2 linked regions of the Homo sapiens genome follow. The protein of the gene in region 2 purifies or fractionates together with the protein of the main gene of each other region. This does not show direct contact. Each region holds a gene or a part of one and is shown on either strand. Other genes may lie near its edges.

Evidence for each region. The genes of interacting proteins can lie anywhere in the genome.
Region 1: the proteins of MTMR1 (region 2) and SBF1 purify together in Homo sapiens (affinity purification with mass spectrometry; 4 studies listed by BioGRID and IntAct, with this or other methods). This does not show direct contact.

Annotation. Positions count from the first base shown.
Region 1 is NC_000022.11:50,443,870-50,451,035, reverse strand, and holds the end of SBF1 (myotubularin-related protein 5), read left to right. Parts: intron 1-2,385; coding exon 2,386-2,493; intron 2,494-2,591; coding exon 2,592-2,803; intron 2,804-3,426; coding exon 3,427-3,514; intron 3,515-3,582; coding exon 3,583-3,714; intron 3,715-3,795; coding exon 3,796-3,894; 3' UTR 3,895-6,036; downstream 6,037-7,166. Other genes in the region: PPP6R2 (serine/threonine-protein phosphatase 6 regulatory subunit 2), read right to left, coding at 6,789-6,837, 6,919-7,166. UniProt on the Homo sapiens protein: Acts as an adapter for the phosphatase MTMR2 to regulate MTMR2 catalytic activity and subcellular location. Promotes the exchange of GDP to GTP, converting inactive GDP-bound Rab proteins into their active GTP-bound form.
Region 2 is NC_000023.11:150,695,728-150,703,988, forward strand, and holds part of MTMR1 (phosphatidylinositol-3-phosphate phosphatase MTMR1), read left to right. Parts: intron 1-3,467; coding exon 3,468-3,573; intron 3,574-8,261. UniProt on the Homo sapiens protein: Lipid phosphatase that specifically dephosphorylates the D-3 position of phosphatidylinositol 3-phosphate, generating phosphatidylinositol. Could also dephosphorylate phosphatidylinositol 3,5-bisphosphate to produce phosphatidylinositol 5-phosphate.

The sequences.
Region 1 (7,166 bases), on a different chromosome or scaffold from region 2:
TTTAACGCTTTTTATTGTAGAGATTCCCCATCTGATAAACCATTATGTCCATCTTTTCTTTTAAATCTTGAAACATAACTTAAAAATATATATAAAGATGGGGTCTTGCCATGTTGCCCAAGCTGTTCTCACACTCCTTGGGTCAAGCGATTCTCCCTCCTCGGCCTCCCGAAGTGCTGGGCTTACAGGCGGGAGCCACTGTGCCCTGCCTGTGTTGTCTTTCTTTAAGCTTAGAGTCTTGGGTTTTATTCTCGCAGGTAGGTAATGAGCTTGTGCGTCAGCTTGGTCTGTTTGAAGCTTGTTTCTAAGCTTTGTTTGGGCAGCTCTCCAGCACCTCTAGAGAAGCTCCAGGGATAGAGCAGCCCAAGGCGTGTGGCCTCTCCAGGGCTTCAGTTGGAGTTTTGTGTCTTTGTGTCTTCGGTAAGGTCTTGCCACACTGGCTTTTTGGAAGTCCAGTATCTTTTAGCATTCCTCTAGAATTTGGGTTCAGCTCATAGTTTTGTTTTTTTTTTTTTGAGGCAGAGTCTCACTTTGTCTCCCAGGCTGGAGTGCAGTGGCGCACTCTCGGCTCACTGCAGCCTCCACTTCCCATGTTCAAGCAATTCTCCTGCCTCAGCCTCCCGAGTAGCTGGGATTACAGGTGCCCGCCACCATGCCCAGCTAATTTTTGTATTTTTAGTAGAGACAGGGTTTTGCCATGTTTACCAGGCTGGTCTTGAACTCCTGACCTCAGGTTATCCACCCGCATTGGCCTCCCAAAGTGCTGGGATTACAGGTGTGAGCCACTGCTGCCGGCGTCAGGTCATAGCTTCTTAGTAGCTGTTCTCTGCCAGGCCTTGTGACATCTTGCTTTGCACATGGCAGCCTAATTTGGCCAACGACTCAAGGAGGGCTCTGTCTAGATTTCTAGAGCCCCTTTGCTGTGGTGCTCCCTCCCCTCTGTGGGCTGCCCTGCAGACCCAGCTGCACTAGCGCCCCTGGACGTCCCGTCTCTGCCTCCTCGGCTCAGCAAGCTCCCGTGTGTTGCTCTGGCCCTGCCTCCCTGCACTGTGGCTGGGCAGAAAACAGGTGACTGTGGGGCCCATCTTATGTGGTCCCATGTCTTAGGCTCCTGTCTCTCAAGCTGCACTGCTTGTCTGACATCTGGAAACAACGGCTTCCCCTTCTTGTCCAGTTTCATCATTTGCATATGGAGGGAGGGCTGTTCAGACTAATTATCTGTCATGGCTGGAAGTTGACAGTTGGCCTCGTGTTTCTCTTTTGAAGTCAGCCGTCAGTTTTATTGTTGCTCTTTCAAAGAGAGCATGTCTTTTTTTCTTCTGGCAGGTTTTGGGACTTTTCTCTTTGTTTTTCAGCAGTTTTTCTGTCCCATTTTGGGGTGTGTGTGTGTGTGTGTGTGTGTGTGTGTGTTTGTGTGTTTTGAGACAGAATCTCACTTTGCCGCCCAGGCTGGAGGGCAGTGGTGTGATCTCGGCTCACTGCAACTTCCGCCCCCTGAGTTTAAGTGATTCTCCTGCCTCAGCTTCCTGAGTAGTTGGGATTACTGGTGCCTGCCACTGCGTCCGGCTAATTTTTGTATTTTTAGTAGAGTTGGGGTTTCACCATCTTGGCCAGGCTGGTCTTGAACTCCTGACCTCGTGATCCACCCGCCTCGGCCACCCAAAGTGCTGGGATTACAGGCGTGAGCCACCGCGCCTGGCCCTAAAATCACTCTCTTGAATTTACTGTATGTTCTAACTCCTGTTTCATTTCAGGGTCTATTTTAATGTTTTTCTCCATTTTTCTGCTGTTCTTTTATTGTAAGCTGGACATTGTGGACCCTGCAGTGTTGAAGATCAGTATTGTGTGGTCTTTTTTTTTTTTGAGAAGCAGTTTTGCTCTTGTTGCCCATGCTGGTGTGCAGTGGCGCGTTCTCGGCTCACCGCAACCTCCGCCTCCCAGGTTCAAGCGATTCTCCTACAGGCGTGCGCCACCATGCTGGGCTAACTTTTTGTATTTTTAGTAGAGATGCGGTTTCTCCATGTTTGTCAGGCTGGTCTCAAACTCCTGACCTCAGGTGATCGGCCTCCCAAAGTGCTGGGATTACAGGCGTGAGCCACCACGCCTGGCCGGGGTGTGTGTTTTTAACTTACCCTGTTGGGGTCTGTAGTGCTTCTTGATTATGTTGTTTGATGCCTCTGGTTAGTTTGGGAAATTTTTCAACTGTTGTCTCCGAATATTCATTTTGCATATTCCTTCCCTCCCTCTTGCCACCTCCCCCTGTGGCCAGTCACACACGCGTTAGGCCTTTCCGTTGTGTCTCTTTCCTGTGTTTTCCTTTTGTCTTTTCGTGCTCTAGTCTGGATATTTCCTTTTGAATAAACTTGCCATTAATTCTTCCCCCAGGAGCTGCAGAGGCTGGAGACAGAGTTGGGCCAACCCGCTGAGCGCTGGAAGGACACCTGGGACCGGGTGAAGGCTGCACAGCGCCTCGAGGGCCGGCCAGACGGCCGTGTGAGTGAGGGCCAGTGTGAGCGTCCACGGTGGGCGTGTTGCTGGGAGAAAGTGGAGTCTGTCCAGCCCTGACCCAAGTCCCAACCTCCTGTTCCCAGGGCACCCCTAGCTCCCTCCTTGTGTCCACCGCACCCCACCACCGTCGCTCGCTGGGTGTGTACCTGCAGGAGGGGCCCGTGGGCTCCACCCTGAGCCTCAGCCTGGACAGCGACCAGAGTAGTGGCTCAACCACATCCGGCTCCCGTCAGGCTGCCCGCCGCAGCACCAGCACCCTGTACAGCCAGTTCCAGACAGCAGAGAGTGAGAACAGGTATGAGGGCACCTCCCACTGCCACATGGACACCTCTGAGCTGGTGTTCTGGGGTCCCAGGCAGTCCTCTGGTGGGAGATTGCGGGTGCTTTTGAGGAGCTTGCTTAAGTATACACCACCACTGGGAGGGGTTTGGGGTGTCGAACTGGTGACCACAGCTGACCACAGCCTGCAGTGGCTGAGGGAGGAGTAGAGAGAGGGCAGTGGTGGGGCCCCCGTGAGTCTGGAGTCTGGCAGGATCCATCCCAGGCAGCTGCTGCCGTGGCTGCTTCTACAGATCTACCTGCCTGGCCATCCCTCTCCTCGTAAGGGCGCCTGCCCTGTGTAGGGGGCTGCTTTCCCAAGACCCTGAGGCTCTGGTGTGGGGATGCTCCCTGGAGTCTGGAGGGTGTGAGGCGCCCTTCACTGTCTCCTTTCTGGGCGTCGTCTTCTTGGGCCTGCAGCCCCCCATCAAAGGCTTCTTTGTGGCCCCCTGGCCAGTGCTCTGGGCTTAGGTCAGTTCTGGGGACAGGGTGCCTGGTCTTACCTCCTGGGCTGGGACAGCAAGGGGGGGACGACTGCTGGGGCCTGGGCTTGGCTGGGCCATGACGGTCAGCCTGGCCCTGGTTCTGCTGGAAATGCAGGTCCTACGAGGGCACTCTGTACAAGAAGGGGGCCTTCATGAAGCCTTGGAAGGCCCGCTGGTTCGTGCTGGACAAGACCAAGCACCAGGTGAGTGATCAGGTGGTGGGGGGGACTCACGGGGGAGGGGGCTCCGCTGACTCTGTGGCCTCCTCCAGCTGCGCTACTACGACCACCGTGTGGACACAGAGTGCAAGGGTGTCATCGACTTGGCGGAGGTGGAGGCTGTGGCACCTGGCACGCCCACTATGGGTGCCCCTAAGACTGTGGACGAGAAGGCCTTCTTTGACGTGAGCCTTGGCCGGGGCTTGGGAGAGGGGAGGGGCTCTGCGGTGTGGGGGCTGCGGAGTCAGTAACCCGCCCTTCCCCAGGTGAAGACAACGCGTCGCGTTTACAACTTCTGTGCCCAGGACGTGCCCTCGGCCCAGCAGTGGGTGGACCGGATCCAGAGCTGCCTGTCGGACGCCTGAGCCTCCCAGCCCTGCCCGGCTGCTCTGCTTCCGGTCGTTACCGACCACTAGGGGTGGGCAGGGCCGCCCCGGCCATGTTTACAGCCCCGGCCCTCGACAGTATTGAGGCCCCGAGCCCCCAGCACTTGTGTGTACAGCCCCCGTCCCCGCCCCGCCCCGCCCGGCCGGCCCTAACTTATTTTGGCGTCACAGCTGAGCACCGTGCCGGGAGGTGGCCAAGGTACAGCCCGCAATGGGCCTGTAAATAGTCCGGCCCCGTCAGCGTGTGCTGGTCCAGCCAGCGGCTGCAGGCGAGTTTCTAGAACCAGAGTCTATATAAAGAGAGAACTAACGCCACGCTCCTGTGCCTGCCTTCCCCACTCCCCGGCTGCCTGCTCTCGGCCTACCCAGAGGGTCCCATCTGCCCCTATCCAGGCCCACCTGGCGGGAGGTTGGCATCTTTCTCGTGAGCCTCTCCTGGTGCCTGGGTCCACCCAGCTCGGCCTGCATGTCCCTGGGAGTGACTTTGCTCTGGGGGCGGATCGAGCAGGAGGCTTCACTGGGGACTTGCTTGATTCCCTCCACGCCTCAGGGCTGGTCTAGGGGCCGGCACGGCTGGAGAGGAAGCCCCCATCCCTACCCAGGGGATGCAGAAGCTGACCTCACAGAGGCTTGGGGGTGAAAGGGTGGGTGGTCATTTGACCCCAGAAGGCTGTTGCAGGTCCAGAGGACACTTGAGGTGGACGTCAGTTTCTGGCTAGACCCGAGCTGAAGGGATGGAGGCCGGAGGCGGGGGGGGGGGGGGGACAGTGGGCTCCCAGGGGAATGCAGGTTGACCACATCTGGCTCCTGCCAGGCAACGAGCAGCATCTGGCAGAGTAAGGGGCCAACGCCCATGGGGGATGGACCCTCTCAGTTCTTGGGAATTCTGCCCCAAAAGTCCTTTCCCTGGGGTCTCAGAGGGCCCCCGTCCTTCCCTTCTTGGTGTCACTGTGGCCCCTCACTGCTCTTTTCCTATTCAAACCTGAGTCCCACCAGGCCCAGGGCTTCACCTGCTGAGCTGTTGTGTCCTTGCCTGTGACGAGGCCTGGCCAGGGGTGCAGGAGCAGAAGGTGGGGAGGGTTATAGACGCTGCAAAGGCCAAGAGAACATCTGAGAGTGGCAGCTGGTGACCTGGCCAGAGGGGCTGGTGAGGGGCAGAGAACCTGGCTAGAGGCTGGGTCCCTCAGGTGGTCCTCTCAGGTGGGAGGCGAGCAGCAGGTGTGGGTGAGGGGAAGGTTCTGATGACAGCTGCAGAGGCAGGGCCCAGTGCTGGCAGGTGGGGGGCCAAGACCCTCCCCTGGTGGGACGTTGAAGCCAAGGATGGCCTTGGACCCTGTCAGGCCCAGCATGGTCCCGCCACCTCCCCCACCCCACAGGTGGTGTTGGGACACCTGGGCGAGATGTGAGGGTGGGCTCACTTGAGCCACTGAAACCAGCCAGGTCTTCCCTCAGGCCGGACAGATGGCGCCTGACCGAAGTTCCTGGCACCTGGAAAACCCACAGGTCAGAGTAAGGGGAGAAAGGACCCTGCCCTCCCTGTTCCACGTCTGTGGGGGGAGAGGACAAATGCCAGGCACAGGGTAGGCGGCGAGAACAAGGCACTCAATGTGTAGCTGGGGCAGAGACTCGGCCTCTGGGGAGCTGAGCGGGTTCCCTCCACCCCCAACCGTGGTGGAAAGACAAGCTCGCTGGGGCGGGGTGGGGGTCTGGTCTCCACCTGCCCCTCCCACTCAGCCACTGAGGACAAGGTGGGGCCCAGGCTTCTGGGAGGGGGAGCTGGCACAAAAGGAAGTCCTGGGGTTGATGTGTTTGAGCGTTAGGCGAAGTGGTTCCCCCCATCCCCCAAACGGAAAAATGTCAGTATTTGCTAAGCTGTAGAGACCTGATGCCGTGATGTGGCCTGTTCCGCCTCCACCCATTACACGGGGATAACGCTGGGGGGTGGCGGGCCCACAAAAGAGGTGCTGGAGGAGACTCTCCCACCCCTGGCCGGGCCGGGGCTTTGGGGCCGGAAGGTTCACAGTACGCGGTTTGTCCGAACGTCACGGCTTTTATTGGGAGTTGGGGGTTTGGGGTGCCCTGTCAGGTGATCAGAACATTAAAAATGGACTCAACGTAAAATAATCTTCTGGACCCTTCTAGGACGACATGGCCGTGACCGGTAGTGCTAGAAACCAGTCTTCGAGCCCCTAGTGCCACACCATGTCCCCCCACCTGCATACCTGTGGTCTCCCCCTGCCAGGCACCCTGTGCTGGGCACAGGGACATCCCTGCCAGGCCTAGAGGGCCTTGTGTTTTTAAGGCAGTCAAATCTTGCAGCCTGGTTCAGTGCCAGCTCCAAGGGCTATTGGGTAGCTGCAAGGGTCAATTATGCATTCCTGTGAGTCAGGTTTTTCCAACCCAGGCCCTTGACTCTGCCCTGAGCTTGCAGCTGGATACAAAGTGCAAAAAAGCTTGGCTCCTTCTGTATTCTTTAAAAACAAAACAACAACAAAAAAAAAACTGTAAAAACAGCCTCCATGTCCACGCCCTTCCTGGCCCATCAGGTCCTGGTGGCATCTCAGGGTCCTGCCCCCCCCACCCCCACCCCCACCCCGGCTCCTGCAGGCCGACCTTATTGCTGTGCTCTGGGCTTGGGGGCGGCTGAGGTGCCCCTCTGTCCTCCAGCAGGGCACGAGTGACCTGAGAGGCCCACTCAGGCAGAAGAGACGCAAGCTGGGCCGTCCAACTGGTTTCAACTGCCAGCTTTACCAATGCAGCATTTATTTTAAAATTAAATTAAATTAAAAAAAAAAAAGATTGCATCACCAGGTAGTTTTCTCGATTAAGGAGGCAGCCTGACCAGGGTGGGCCGTGGCCGGGCGGCAGCAGCATCACACTGGGCCATTTAAGGCAGCTCCTTCTGGCGGGGCATCTGTCTTCCTGCAGGAATGGGGTGGGGTTGGAACCGTGCGGGCTGCGGGCCCTGTCCACACCCCCTACCCCCACACTCAACCTGCTCACCCGTCCTTTGTCACTGTCCCCAGGGTGGCCACCATGGCTGGGGCTGCTGTGACTGCCATGATGGGCCCTAGGGGGACCGCCACGGCCAGTGCAGAAGAGACTGCTGGGGTGGGTATGGCGGGGCCAGCCTTGCTCAGTGCTGTGGTGATGGCCACAGTAGCCTCGGGGGGCACAGCCACGGCTGGGGCAGCAGTCACTTCCTTTGGCGCGGGGCAGGCAGGGCTTAACAGCCGGCTGTCAGCACACCC
Region 2 (8,261 bases):
GGAGTTCAGGGTTGTCTGGGCTGGAGATTCAAACTGGGGAGTCATGGGCTTATAGATGAGGCTTAAATTCATGAGGCAGGTGGAGTTCACAGAAGAATGATGGAGGTCTGGAAAAGGGAATTGGGCTAGGAATAGGGCTGGGTGGATTTTCAAGATGCTTACCAGGTAAGAGTGACCCGACATGGTGAGCATTCAGATGTGAGGGGGGAGTGCCGGGTGGACTCCAAGGCAAACCTCAGCTTTCTAGCGTGTGGGGGCCGGATAACTGGCTGTGCTGCGCCCTGAGTTAGGAAACACAGGAGCAGAGTAGGTTGCGGGGCTGAGCGGCTGATGCTGGTTTAGACAGGTTGAATTGGCAGGGTCTCTGGGCCAGACTAGTGGACAGGTCTTGTAGGAACATCAGCATTGAGATCAGGAGAGTCCAGGTTGGAGAAACAGAGCTGGGAGCCTCCAGCCTGTAAGTAGTTATTGACACCAGGAGTATAGAGGGCAATTGCACAGACTACAGAGAAGGGATGGGGGAGGAATCATGGCCTCCTTTCTCAGTTCTGTCAGCTCAACAAGCTCAGATTCACACTTTTCTTTGAAGAGTGACCTCTAGAATGGAACCTGGCTCTATGGGTGGGACTTGGCCATGTCCCTGGGACTATGGGGCCTTCACTTCTCTTCTGAATACTGTAATTAATAATGAGGAAGCTGTGGTCCTGTAAGAGGATGTGTCTTGCCAAAGATCATGGAGTTAGCTGGTGACAGAAGCAGGACTCATGTCCAGGCCTCCTGTCTGCTAACCCACTGTGCTTCACTGTGTGTAACTACATTGGCCAGGATGCTTCTGGTTGCAGGTGACAGAAACCACAGTTCAATCTAGCTTAAGGCAAATGAGATGCCCTGGCTCACAGAACTGCTCCAGACAGGAGGAGAGATGGCCACAGGCACAGTTGAGGTCAGGATTGCAAACAGTGTTGTCGGGACTCCCCATCTCTCTCTCCCTCTCTCTTTTATTTTCCCTCACTTTTTAATCGCTGTGAGTTCCTTAAGATGGTAGGGGTGGGGTGGGGTGGGGAGTGGCCTCCAGCAGCTCTGGATACAGATCCATGTATTTCAGGATCCAAGGGGAAAAGTCTGGGATTGGCTGGTCCTAGGTAACTCACCTACAAGTGGGAGCAGGTGGAGGAAGGGGTCAACCTTCTTCTCCGCTTTCCCCCACAGAAGCCTGTGTTGTGGGGAAGGGCAGTTCCCAAAGTAAAGAGGAAGGTCTTTATCAGAAGAAGGGGGAAGGCATGCCGGGCAGGCAGGTGGTAATAGCAGGTCACACTCATGCTCAGCAGTTGGGTTTCTGCAGTTTCTTCCTGTATTTGCAACTGGTGGGTGCTGACAGAAAAAGGCATTATGACAAGAAAAGTATGATATACGTGGGAATGAAAGTGACTTAACCTTTAAAAAGGAAACAAATCTCTCCCTTTTCTCTCCTTCTCCCCCTCAGGTCGAAATTGTGGTATATAGATTCCTGGCATGTGATAGGAATTTCTGCTCATTCAGTATTTTCAACCATACAGATAACCTCTGGTCTGTTTTGATCAGAGACTGCAATTTGGATCACTAGCACAGAACTTCAGTTTTCTTTCTTTTACTATTTGGGTCATTTTCCATATTGCCTGGGGATTCCAGGTGTTTCTGTCCTTCAGATATGTGAGTGTGGGTTTAATTAGTGATATGATTTTTTTTTTAAAGGCCTGAAACATTCTTTACAGTGAAAGCTACCTGCAAGGTAAACTTTTGTCGGTGTTTTTAGCCCTCTAGCTTGATTTCTTAGTGTTTTGCCAAATTGTGAGAGGAACCCGGCCTCTGGGGGCAATTGTTAAATCTCTTACTGCGCTAGTTGGCTTATGTGGTCTTTCAGGTCAGGTGAGTACAGCCTGACCACTTGCCAGTCGTGTGACCTTGGGCAAAACTGGACCTTAATTTTTTCATCTGTAAAATGGGTCACTGTGAGGCTGGGCAAGGCTACGTGTGTGAAAATGCTTTGATGCCTCAGAGCTCTGTGGGAGTGAAAGATGACATTTTCTTTGCATTGCTGTGTTTTCATGTAAAGCGGTTGGCTCGCATCTGTGCTGCTGGCTTCAGTGCAGTGAGTCAGTCGCTATTGGTTGTTCCATGTCCTGTTGAGGACAGCCACTTTCTCACAGGGCATGTCACCTCTGTGCCTCGATTTTCTCTCCTCAAAGACAAGTCGGCTAGTCCCTGTTCTGCCTTCTCATCACACCATGGTTGTGAGGCTCTGATATAATAAAAACCATTTGTGCTTGTAATCCCAGCACTTTGGGAGGCCAAGGCGGGTGGATCACCTGAGGTCAGGAGTTCAAGACCAGCCTGGCCAACATGGTGAAAACCCGTCTCTACTAAAAATACAAAAATTAGCCAGGCATGGTGGCATGCGCCTAAATAATCCTAGCTACTAGGGAGGCTGAGGCAGGAGAATTGCTTGAACCCAGAAGGGCAAAGTTTGCAGTGAGCCGAGATCGCGCCACTGCACTCCAGCCTGGGTGACAGAGCAAGACTCTGTCTCAAAAAAAAAAATAAATAAAAAATAAAAACCATTTGTAAGTTGTCAAAGCACTTATAGAAGTGTAAGGTATTGTTAGTACTACACAGAGAACATCATTTTTCTAGGCTGTAATTTATAAATCTCATGTTCAGCTTTACTTTTCTGAGTCACTTTGCTTCACTCAAAAGTACACTATTTTCTAGATTTAAAACTACCAACATGAAATTGATTGAATGTTTGAAAAGCCTATGCTGTAAGATAAATATTTCACATATTTCTCCCGGCTGGGTGTGGTGGCTCATGCCTGTAATCCTAGCACTTTGGGAGGCTAAGGCGGGTGGGTCACTCGAGCCCAGGAATTCGAGACTAGCCTGGGAAACATGGCAAAACCCTGTCTACACGCGCGCGCACACACACACACACACACACACACACACACACACACACACACACAAAAGCCGGGCCTGGTGGCATGTGCCTGTAGTCCCAGCTACATAGGAGGCTGAGGTGGGAGGATCACTTGAACCTGGGAGGTTGCAGTGAGCTGAGATTGCACCACTGCACTCCAGCCTGGGTGACAGAGTGAGACCCCATCTCACAAAAAAAAAAAGAAGTATTTCTTCCATATAATTTTAATAGAGTAAAATTCCATTAAATGGTAGAGAATAGTAAGCTTAACTAACACCTAGAATCTTCAACTTTGTTTGAGAAAATTGGGTGATTCATTTAAAATTAACCTGGAATCTAATCTTATTTCCTAGTTGTCAGTCGCTATTTCAGTTCTTACATAAAATGTGAAGGTAACCAAAGAGTCTAGTTAGTTCATCTAAAAAAAGAAGTGTTATCATATTCCTATTCAGTGCTAATTTTTTCACTGAGATCCTATGATATAACGTTTTGTAATCCATGCTATTTTTTTTAGTCCCACAGGATCACATGTTGAATGGTGTAAACAGCTTATAGCTGCTACAATTTCTAGTCAGATTTCAGGTTCAGTGACATCAGAAAATGTGTCCAGAGATTACAAGGTAAGCAACATTGAGTGTTTAATTCATTTTCAGTATGCTAAGTAGCCAAGAAGCTTTGCAGTTTTAATTCAAGTGAGCTGTTGGCCTTTTGATGCAACATGGCCATTTGCTCGAGAATAAGGATGAAAGGTTCTCTGTTGTTAGATCTGAAATGTAGAAGAGAAATTTTACCAGTATCCAGTACATGTAGTCATAGTTTTGTAATTGAAAGGAGAAGCTGTCTTTAGATGACAATGATTCTTTTAAAAATCAAGTTCCATTTTATAATAATAAATGCATATAGCTTCTTTGTTAGTATTGTGAGTTTCAGGAAATATCTTGATGTACAATACTTCCCTAACTTCACAATTTTTTAATTTATGTATTATCTGTGAGTATTCAGCATTAACATGTGATACTAGAATGTATAAAAACCCTTCCAGAATCTCAAAAGAGTATTGTATGGGCAGCCTCATTTTTCAGTCCTTACTGAAGTGAAAATCTCTTTTTGTTCATTTTAAAAGTTAGATTCCCTGCTTATTCTAAATTTAAGTGATAAGCTCCTTGTCAGCAGAGACTAGGGCAGTTTTACCACTGGCTTCCCAGGCACAATCCTGGAGCATAACAGTTGCTCAATAAATATTGAATCAATTAACAAATCAAAAAAATCGCTTGTTCCATCTTTGTTAAGGCTAAAGACTAACTTTGTTTTAATGTCAATAAACTATTAATAGGTATATTAAATGAAATCACATTTATATTTCAGTACTGATGTTTGCCTAAGTTGAGGTTTCTGTTTATTAGTGGTCATTTTTCCTGCTAGTAAGAGATGATTGATTTTTCACAAGTGTGTGTAAAATGCATTTGGTATCCCAGACTACCATTAGTTAATAGTCTCTCAATATCATGGTCCTTGCCAGACATCAAATCTTACAAATATCAAGAATTACAGTAAAGATCCTAATTAATTCTTAATAGGTACTCCTTGTTTAGGAGCTTTATCTTCAGTTCCTCTTTAGAGCTCATAGGGTAATAACAAGTGCAGAAACAGGCTCAGGAGGCCAATTAATTGAGATTTGGCTATGGTGCTGTCTCTTGCCTCATCCAAACTGGCAGATGCTGTTGATTATGCCTACCAAAGGAAGGCATAGCTGTGGATTAGCAGAAATTGGATAATCTGCCCAGCTAGAAGAGTGACAGTGTATTTCTTAATCATTTTTCCTGCTATGTGGTGTTCATGTTTGCCCATAAAAGAGCAGCTGGGGCTCCTGGACCTTAAAACCTGGTCGGGCAAACACACTGTCTCCAGGTGGGAGAAGCATTTGCTGCATCACTGATGCGTGAATGGCTGGTCACTGAGCAGCTGCGGATCGCATCAGTTCCAGTTGCCCTATTGCCTGCACCTTAGCTGAGAAACTGCCCGCTGAGTAGAGAGACTTAAGAACCCATTTTAGCAGAGAATAGCTCTCACACTTCGGGGTGATTTTCTTTATGGACAATTATGAGTTAACTGTAATGTTTTCATTAAGGTTGAATAGTTGTTAGTGTTGTGTGTGTCCTATAAAAGATTGAATGTCGACTGTGTGCATAGCTTTCTAACATTGCATGAATAGATCAGACTGAATCTGTACTTTAACATGAAGCAACTAAGTTTTTTCAATCTCAGTCTATTTACAAATTTTGTGTAGCTGAATTAGCTCATGTTGGAATGGTTGAACAGATGGTATTCAGAAAAAATAAGGCTTTCTTTCTTTTGGAAATTAAATTTTAAGTTCCTACATCAGATCATAGCTAAAGTCTTTGATGAATTATTGTAAGGGGGCATGTTTTATAATTGTCTTTGTTATATTTGCCCTGCAGCCAAATCTGAAAAGTTGGTGTTAAATTTATAACTCAGGGGTTGTTACACTTTCTTCAAGGAGAGTTTTTTTTTTTACATAATAAATACATAAAATATTTCTAAACCACAAGGATAATTGTACATGTTCCCTATAAAGTAGTTCTTAAAATCAGGGTAACCAAAATGGGCCTTTGGGACCCCTCTGGCATGGGAGCTATTGCATGGGGTTGACCCTGAAGAGCCAGATAAAGTTCCTTGAGGATTTAAGTTGCAGTCATCAGCTGATATTTGAAATTATCTGTTGTGTAAATGTCTTATTTGAAATACACACTTAATTTGGGGGCTAATTTATTATAGATTAAACTCAACATCAGTAATTAAATGGGAGCAGATGTTTATGTGGAGCAGAATGCTTGGCATCTTATTTGAAATGCTGATTGTCTTCTGAGTTGTAACAGGCTGTCGAGAATGGTTCTATGTCATCATCATCATCATCATCATCAACCCTCTAACACATACAGGCTCTGGGGTTTTGTAATGCTTTTTGACATGTCATCCATTTAAGCCTTAAAACAACCTAGTGAATCTGGGTGTGGTGGTCTGTAGTCTCAGCTACTTGGAAGGCTAAGATGGGAGGATCACTTGAGTCCAGGAGTTCAAGGCTGCAGTGTGCTGTGGTCACACTTGTGAAAAGCCAATGCACTCTAGCCTAGACAACATAGAGAGATCTTGCTTCTTTAAAAAAGTCCATTGAGGTAGCTATTACTACAATCATCATTTAATGGATGAGGAAACCGAGGCCTAGAGAGATGAAATGACTTGCTTAGGGTCATACAGTTAGACTTGGGATTTGAACTCAAGTCATCCTATTGAAAAGCTAGAGTGATTTTAAGATTTTGTCCCACCCCCATTCCCATCCACTGCTTTTCGATCTTTTTTTTTCTTCTTTTTCTTCTTCTTCTTTCTTTCTTTTTTTTTTTTTTATAGAGATGGGGTCTTACTACGTTTCCCAGGCTGGTCTTGAACTCCTGGGCTCGAGCGATCCTCCCATCTCGGCCTCCCAAAATGCTGGGATTAGAGGTGTGAGCCACCATACCCAGCCTCATCCACTGTTTTTCAAAATGTGACCCTTGGGTCTTCCCAAGACAGCATTCTCTGGAGCACCTGTAAAAATGCAGCTTCCCGGGCTCCATCCCAGATTTACTGAATCAGAGTGTCTGAGGGAGGGAAACAAGTGTCTCATATATTTCTTATGCATGATAAAATCTGAAAACCTAGGCTTCCTGAGTTTCTGTCTGTTGAAATTGGTGATGGGACCCTGCATTTCTGGTATATTACTAAGAATCTGAATAATTAGCAACTCAGATATTGGAGAATAATTATTTTATTATTTACTCATATCATAAATTGTCAGTCAGCCCAGGGTCAGCTCATCTAAAGTACAGTAAGAATATCGCTGGTATCACGTGACATGAGTTTAGATGGTATGTCCATGGACGTATTTTAGTAGCTATGTAATTATTTTCTTGTGTATTAGAAAAATCAGCACATCAGGCTTGTGATTTAGTAGATGTTATGGCTTAGAGCAGGCAAAGTATTAAAAAGGAATGGATTTTAAATCAATATAAAGATAAATACAAAATTAGTATGGGCAGTTGGCAGATACAGCAAGCCAAACTTGTTGAGGTGGTATGTGAAATGGCAAGTTTGGCAAGCATTGTCCCAGCTGAAAGAGTAGATAGCTATTATACTGAATTGTGTGGCAGCTAAATTAATAAATGCCTGATTTAATACCGAGTCATCCTGAAGATTGGCCTGTTAATTAAGACTATTACACAAAATGTAATAAAATATTTGTTTTGCTTGTCCCCCCTCCACTACCAACTCAATTGCTTTCATTTTTACTAGGCTAACAAATGGTAAAAAATTTCTCTTGAATTTGCCAGAAATTTTAAGAACAAAATTTGAATGTAATCTTCTGTAGATTAGATGAAATAATACAGTTACAAATGGAAACATTTTTAGGAACTATTAGTAGAAGTGACATCATTGATCACAGCTTCCATTGTTTGGAAAGTAGGACTAGGTTATGAAAAGAGAACATGATGGAGTAGTACAAACAATATTGGTTAGCTTGTGACCTTGTATAGTCTCTGAGGCTCAGTTTCCTTTTCTGGAAGGATAAAGGGGCTTGGATTAGATTATTCACCTCTAAATGCCTTTCTTGCTAGAACATTATTCAATTGTGTTCAAAAGAATTTGATCTGGGCCAGCTTTATGAAAATTAGGACACTATAGTTTTAATGTGATCATCTTCCTTCCTCTTGCTTCATCATTATCATCAGCTCTTCTCTGTTCTCCTTCCCTCACCCACACACACACAGTAGCTATATCTCTTCTCTAAACATTCTGAAGAAAAATGAGAAAATGGAGATGGCCTTATACTAAGTTTAATCATTGGATGGGATAGTACAGTAATTACATTTGGAGGGAAGTCGAAGGCAGAGTATAGGAAAGACTTCATTATGCTTGAGCTGGGTCTTGGTTAACATTTCTTAAATTGGGCCCTAGTCTATGAAAAGGGAAGCTTTAGCATGAACCTTCAAAATCTACTTCTGTAATCTATAGCCTGGCCTTGTGACTTATAAATCAGAGCTTGCAAACTCAGATGCCTTCATGGAACAGTTCACAAATCTAGGCAGACATGGAAGAGTGCTGTAGAGAACTGGAGAGTACAGAATGCCCACCTAACAGCAATTAAATTTTTTTAAAAACCATAGGCCTCCAGTTTTGTAACCACTGTAATAGATAGAAGAGTGCTATCCTATCATGGTTTTTGTGGGAAATAATTATTTCTTAAAAATGTTAA